Homo sapiens: one gene and its partner. The protein of the gene in region 2 purifies or fractionates together with the protein of the main gene of each other region. This does not show direct contact. Each region holds a gene or a part of one and is shown on either strand. Other genes may lie near its edges.

What was found. Proteins that work in one complex are often made in the same cells at the same time.
Region 1: the proteins of ENPP7 (region 2) and CD109 purify together in Homo sapiens (affinity purification with mass spectrometry; 2 studies listed by BioGRID and IntAct, with this or other methods). This does not show direct contact.

What each region holds. Positions count from the first base shown.
Region 1 is NC_000006.12:73,699,054-73,702,802, forward strand, and holds part of CD109 (CD109 antigen isoform 1 preproprotein), read left to right. Parts: intron 1-3,749. UniProt on the Homo sapiens protein: Modulates negatively TGFB1 signaling in keratinocytes.
Region 2 is NC_000017.11:79,728,922-79,732,670, reverse strand, and holds the start of ENPP7 (ectonucleotide pyrophosphatase/phosphodiesterase family member 7 precursor), read right to left. Parts: upstream 1,729-3,749; 5' UTR 1,625-1,728; coding exon of another isoform or gene 1,532-1,624; coding exon 1,279-1,531; intron 1-1,278. UniProt on the Homo sapiens protein: Choline-specific phosphodiesterase that hydrolyzes sphingomyelin releasing the ceramide and phosphocholine and therefore is involved in sphingomyelin digestion, ceramide formation, and fatty acid (FA) absorption in the gastrointestinal tract.

The sequences.
Region 1 (3,749 bases), on a different chromosome or scaffold from region 2:
ACATGGGGGCAGACTTCAACTTTCGTTATTGGACTATCATTTCTGAAAATGAATGACCCCTGATCTTATGATAGTCGCTAAAGAAAATATTGAAATATTAAATCACAGGACATAATACTTAAGGTAGTTCCACATTCATTATTTATTCATTAAGAATTTATGAGTGGGAAGAGGGAGGGTATTAAAAAACCACCTATTGGGTACCACACTTATCACCTGGATGATGAAATAACATGTACACTAAAGCCCTATGACAGGCATTTTACCTATATAACAAACCTGCACGTGTATCCCTGAAACTAAAATAAAAGTTAAAAAAAAAAGAATTTATAATATTGGCTCCACTAGTGTGGCAGTTTTCCTGCAATGCAGAGATCCAGAATATATATGGATGTTTTTGATAAATATTTGAGCTTTGCTTGGACATTTACATACTCTAATTCTAGAATTTCACCTGTTAGGTCTTTTCTGTGATCTCTGTTATCAGTCTCTCTTTTTTTTTGCAACAAATAGTACCTACATTGGGGTGCATGTTGTTGTGGCTTGGTTTTCAGCTTTATTCTTAGATCTTCTTTTGGGAGAAGGGTTCCTTGTATGCCCATAGGAAAGTTCAAGTACTCAAGACTGGGGCGGGCAAAGCTGTCCTGGGAGCAGAATGGATCTGTGGGAAGGAAGGAGGGAAAACGCTGCTTCTTTCATGGGCTGTTTTTGACTCTATTGACATAGAGTTTCATTGAAAATGCCATTGCTAGGAGCACTCTCCTGTTTCAAAGGAGAATGTTACTGTATTATCAGAGGCTGGGAGTTATTGTTCTCAGAGCAGATGCTTCCTGTAATGTGAGGACTTGAGGATCAAGACACTTCTCCCTGCTTGTCTTCACATCCTTTGCTTTATCTGGCTTCTCCAGTTGTAACAATATGTAGATAAACCAGGACTTCTAAATCAGGGGTCTGGATCTTCAAGTATCTGGATGTGGATTCATGTTTTGTTTTTTCTCCATCACATAAACACCAAACACCAACAAATAAATACCTTTTATTTTTAAGGGACAGAGTCTCACTCTGTTGCCCAGGCCAGAGTGCAGTGGTGAAATCATAGCTCACTGCAACTTGGAATTCTTGGGCTCAAGTGATCCTGCTGTCTCAGCCTCCTGAATCAGCTGGGACTACAGGCAAGTGCCAGCATGCTAGGTTTAAAATTTTTTTTTTTTTTGTAGAGATGGGGTCTTGCTATGTTGCCCAGACTGGTCTTGAACTCCTGGGCTCAAGCGATCTTCCTGCCTCAGCCTCCCGAAGTGCTGGGATTATGGGTATGAGCCTGATTGTTTCATTTTCCTATGAGCCACCCCCAGCCCCCCAACAGAAGGTTGGTTTTAATAAAGATTTATCTTCTAGTAAAGTTGGGTAAGGCAGTAGACTGTGTCTTAGTAGCTTATTTCCAGCAGTTTTGGATTTCTTAGAAATCCTCAGGATAGGGAGGTGTTTTACCCAAACCACAATAGATTTCTGGCTCAATTTGTGTTGGAAATAGTAATAACTAAATTGTTCAAATGGAGAATGTATTTAATAAAGGTGAAAAAGTATGGCATTTCTTCAGGGAAGAGTTCATTTGTTTGTTTGACAGATATGGGGGAGATTTTATTTACATTTCCACTTTTATGGCCAGGAGTGTAGGTTATATTACTGTTATTCATTTAAAAATACATTAATTCTACATTTATTGGGGATTGATTGTAGTTTTTTTTTTTTTTTTTTTTTTTTTTTTTGAGACACAGTCTCACTCTGTCACCCAGGCTGGAGTGCAGTGGTGCGATCTCGGCTCACTGCAACCTCTGCCTCCCTGGTTCAAGCGATTCTCCTGCCTCAGCCTTCCGAGTAACTGGGACTACAGGCATGTGCCACCATGCCTGGCTAATTTTTTGTATTTTTAGTAGAGACGAGGTTTCACTGTGTTAGCCAGGTTGGTCTTGAACTCCTGACCTCGTGACCTGCCTGCCTCGGCCTCCCAAAGTGCTAGGATTATAGGCGTGAGCCACCGTGCCCAGCGATTATGGGCTTTTTTTTTTTTTTTGGTGAATAATAGACCTTTAGAAAAAGTATTTCTGCTACACTTTGCAGAGTTCTGGGAAGGTGTATCAATGCCTTTCTAGTAGTGAGATTCAAAAGATTGCTTGTCACTGTTACCACTGTCACTGCCTCTACCACTATCAGCATCATTGCCATCAGCTCCATAGTGATTAGAACTATGTTCCTAATCTTATCTTCCTTTGCATAAAGAGTTAGTTAAATAAACATAACTGGCAAAACGTAGTAAAAGTTCAGCAGGTAATAATTACCAGAGGAAAGAAGATGGCACAGCTATTGGCATTTAAAATCAAGTCAGATTACTGTTTTGGGTGGAGAGTGAGTCTGTCCCTTTGTCTCTTCCCATATTTTTTTTCTCTTTCCTTACTGTGAAAGGAGTTCCTTGCCAAATCAAGAAAAAAGAAATTAAGAACATTTTGAGAACTGTCCTCTCATCTGTTAAGGCATATAAAATAATTTAATTTTCGTGATGTCCTTGAAACCATAATTTCTGTTTTATTTTCCCTTCTCTTGCTACAATTTGACATTTTCATTTGTAAACTTTCAGTAGTTTTCCTGAACAAGAGTCACTTCAAGTAATAAAGAATATAACCTTTCTCCCTCATTAATGAATTCATCATCATTAGTTTCATGTAAACCTGATTTAAGAAAAAATGCTAGAGGCTGAGTGCAGTGGCTCACAACCGTAATCCCAGAGCTTGGGAGGCTGAGGTGGGAGGATTGCTTGAGCCCAGGAGTTTGAGACCAGCCTGGACAACACAGTGAAATTCTATCTCAAAAACAAAAACAAAAGAACCCTTAAAACCAAAAACTCCCAAAAACCTAAACTGAAAATGCCTACTGAAATTTTGGGAACTCTGCATGGGCGTCTCCAGGTGAGTGCCTGCTGGTTTGGGGGCACCATTTTTTAAATGCTGCCAATCCTACTTCCATCTTCCCATTGAGTTACTGGGGTGGAATGTGCTCTATAAATGTGTCTGTAACTCGCTTTTTCTTTTTGCCCTAAAATCCTGGAGAGTTAATGGAGTGTTAACCTTTTTTTAAAGATTTTTTAAAAAATCTATTTTTTCCTTTGTTGTCTTTCTCACATTGACTATGATATATTTTATTTTCCATCTTGGCTCAGTAAGGGTGGGAAATTTTTAAAAATTGAGATATTAGCTGAAAAACTTAAAAAATCATCCAATTTGGTTTGGATGGTTTTCTGGTGGAAACAAAGCTCCTGAACATGCATTTCATGCCTCGTAGATAAAAATCAGTCCCATGGTCTTTATGAAAGTAGATTAATTAGTGTAGTGTGTGGGCAGATCTCCCAGAGCAGGTTTTCACAGGCAGCTTTGCCAACATAACTCAGTCTGAACCTGCAGTTATGTTAGAATTATTTTTAAAGGGTGTAGGCTTTTCATTCACACATCGTCTTTGTTCTTGTGTGTGATGTATATTAACAGGTAGGTGGTACCTGAGAATAAAGGACCACAGCATAATCACGATGTGCCTGGGCTCTGGAGCCTGGCTACCTGGGCACAGGTGCTGGCCATTCCACTTAGTGGTTGTGTGGCTGTGGGCAGTCATGATCTCACTAGGCTTCAGTTTCATCATCTGAAAAATAGTGGTTTCTGCCTTATACAATTATATGGATATTGTGAGGATTAAATGAGGTAACA
Region 2 (3,749 bases):
ACACACACACACAGGGGAAAGGCCCTGGGGAGACGTGGGGAGAGGTCGGAGTGATGCTGCCGCCAGCCCAGGAATGCCAAGGATTGCCGAGGCCCCAGGAGCCAGAAGAGGTGAGGAGGGAGCCTCTGCTGGAACCTTCCGGGTGGGTGCAGCCCTGCAATGCCCTGGGTTTGGCCTTCTGGCCTCCAGAAGCATGCGGATCCGTTTCTGTGGGTTTAAGCCAGTCTGCAGATCTTTGTTGCAGGCGCCCTGGGACACCCACGCAGGGTCTTTGGAGGATGACGCAGGTTTGGGAGGTGGCTGAGCCCCTAGGGAGGGCCAATTGCTTTTCAATTCTCTAACACCTTTTTTGTGGTACTTGGCTTTTTATTATTTTATTATTGTTTGTTTTTTTGACACAGGGTCTTGCTCTGTCACCCAGGCTGGAGTGCAGTGGTGTGATTGCAGCTCACTGCAGCCTCTACCTCCTGGACTCCAGCAATCCTCCTGCCTTGGCCTCATATATATATATATGTGTGTGTATATATATATATATATACATATATATATGTATATATATATGTATATATATATTATATGCAGTCTTGCTTTGTCACCCAGGCTGGAGTGCAGTGGTGCGATCTCAGCTCACTGCAACTTCCACCTCCTGGGTTCATGCAATTCTCCTGTCTCAGCCTCCCAAGTAGCTGGGATTACAAGCATGCACCATCATGCCTGGCTAATGTTTGTATTTTTAGTAGAGATGGGGTTTCGCCATGTTGGCCAGGCAGGTCTCGAACTCCTGACCTCCAGTGATCCGCCCGCCTCAGCCTCTCAAAGTGCTGGGATTACAGGCGTGGGCCACTGAGCCTGGCCCCATATTTGGCTTTTTAAAAACCTATGTCTGTATTGTCTACAGCCTGGGCAGATCTGTCAGGGAGGTGTTGGGTGGAAAATGGAAAGGATGGAAGGGAGAGGGAGAGGCTGACACAGCCAGCTGGAGGGGCGGGCAGGGGAGGGGAGCCATGGGAGCCAGCGGGGAGCCCGCCACACTCCCCTCCTCCTGAAGCCTTCTGGGGTTGCTGCCCTGGCTGTGGCCACGGGTTTAAGGACCCCCCTGGTCATTTTTCTTTGTCCCGGATCTGTTGCTACCAACGGTGAGGATTCCTAATGGTCCCCTTGGCTCTGTCCTGTGCCTGGAGCAAGGACCTCTCCCCTTTATCCTGCACGACACGGCTCTGTGCCATCTGGTTTCTCAGGCCCTCCCACCCCCAGGCCCCGTCACAGGGCAGTACTCACCGGTGACCAGGGTGAAGTGGCAGGGGCTGGTCATGGTGACAAAGGCGGGGGTCATGTAGCGTGCCTTCACCCCGTCTCGGGCCATGGCGTCCAGGTTGGGGGTGTCCACGTCCTGGTCGTAGTTCCAGCGGAAGCCGTCGAAGGACACCAGGAGCAGCTTGTTCTGGGAGCCCTGACTTTGTACCGGTGCTCCGGCCCCGGGAGCCAGGAGCGTGGCCAGAGCCACAGTGAGGAGGACGGCCGGGCCTCTCATGCTGGGCCTTCCAGATGGACAGGCACACAGGGTGCACAGGGCTGGCTCCTGCCGAGGAGGACAAAGTCCCAGGGTCACCCGGGCTGATCTCATCCCGTGCGCCTTTGGAATGTGGCTGTGCACATCCCCGGGTCGAACCTCGGGAGTGGGCTCCCCAGCCGTGTCAGTGCCACCCCTGGTCCCAGCCTCACGTGCGTGGGGTGGCATCAACTTGAGCATCTGCCTTTATTGCCAGCCGCGCCCTTGGTGCTCCAGGCTCCTCCCCTCCCTCCCCAGAGTGGGGACAGTGACCCAGGGCTCAGAGCACAGCAGGAGCCCATTCCACTGGGAAAGTCGTGCCCTCTCCCTCTCCCATAGCAACAGGTGGTCCCTCTGTCCCAGCTCACCCTGACCCCAGGGGACCCAGGTGAGGCTGGGGTGGGACCCCCTCTCCAGGCCTTTAGTGGTGCATGGGCCTCAGGCCTGCCTGGGTGAGGGCCTGTGGGGTGGGCTTCCCATGGTCAGGGCCAGGACCAAGCCTGGGTCACAGCATGGCCTTGTCCGGGGGGAACCCCAGGCTGGGTGCCTGTTCTCCTCCTGGTCCTGTTAAGGGGCTCCTTGAGCGTGGTGAGCAGACCGGGAACCGGATGGCTCCAGACCAGCGTCCTGTGGGCCTTCCTTCTTGGGATGCTTCCTTCTTGGGATGCTTCCTTCTTGGGAATTTCAGAGGGTGCCTGGGGCTCGGACGTTCTTGCTTGATGACAACAAGGGGTCAGAAGAGGGGGACTCCCTTGTTACCATAGGCACATGAAGGGTGGGAGAGGAACCCCTGGATTCAGTGTGCGGTTCTCCCTCCCTCTCCCCCATCTCTCCTTCCCCTTCTCTTATTTTCTCTCTCTTTCTCTGTCTCTCTCCCTCTTTCCTTCCCTGTATGTCTCTGTCTCAGTTCCTATTAAGCACGTTCTGTGTGCCAGGCATGGTTCTAGGTTCTGGGGACACAGAAGTGAATGAGACAGACAATGTTCCTCGTGGCCTCCATTCGAGTTGGGGACACAGAAGATAAAATGAACAAACAAGAAAAAAAGAGTTTCCCAAAAGAAGGGAAGGCAGGAAGACGTGATGGAGAGGCTGGCGGGGTGGGTGGGCGGCACGCAGTGGTGGCTGGTGGGGTTTCGCTGAGAGGATGGTGGAGGCCAGTGACTCTGGGGGACCATGAGCTAGGGGAGCGGGCATGGGGCAGGTGGCAGGGGTGGCAGGGCCAGTCCCGTAGGGCAGGTGGCGGTGATTCTCATGCCAGGCAGTGGAAGCCAGGCGGGGGTTTTAAGCAAGAGAGTGACATGAACTGATCTAATGCTAAAATATACTCTCCATTTGTGGGTGAAGGATAGACCAGAACGAGGGCAGAATGGACACTGGGTGCTCCCTGGAGAGGTGACTGCCTGTGTCTGAGCAAGAGCTATTGGTGGCCCGGACCAGGGTGGTGGCTGTGGGATGGGGCTGGGTTTGAGGCGGATCCTGGAGGTTTTGCTGGGAGGTGGTGCGCTGGATTGCATGGTGGGAGGTGGTGCACTGGATTGCGCGGTGGGAAGACGGAAGGGCATGGTTGGAGGTATTGTCACAATTTCAATCTGGAGCCACACACCTGCCGACAGTGGCCCCGGCCTTCCTTAAGACCTTTGGCTGGCTGCAGCAAGCAGACGCCGTCTCGAAGCGATGGCCGTGGCACTCAGATGACACCGCAGACGCCGTCCACAGCCTCCCCAGGCCAGCCAGCCTTTCCTAACCCAGGTGGGCAGGGACCACTGGTACGGATCCCCGGCTGCCCCTGCCTGGCCGACTGGAACACACTCTCAAGGAGGACTCCGTGCCAGTGACCCCTCTTCTTCATGCTTCTGTGCACCAAAAGCTGAAAACCAGGATGGAGCGACTGCCCGGTGCCTGCAACCACCGCGTGGGGTGCCTGCTCTGCAGGGCTGGGGCTCAGGGCACCCAGAGGTTTGGCTCCTCCCTGGGGAGCACAGACCTTGGGGAGGGTAAGGATCCCTGTGAGTCAGGGACACAGGTTACGATGCACGCACAGGGGGAATGCAGGCGGCCTCGGGAGAGGAGATCGGGCTTTGCTGGCACCAGCGTTGTGGGAGGCCCACAGGATGCATGGAGCCAGGAGAGAGGGCGGGAAGGCTTCAGGCAGAGGGACCAGGCATGGAGGAAGGGAGGCACCGGGGCTCCCGAGAGGGTC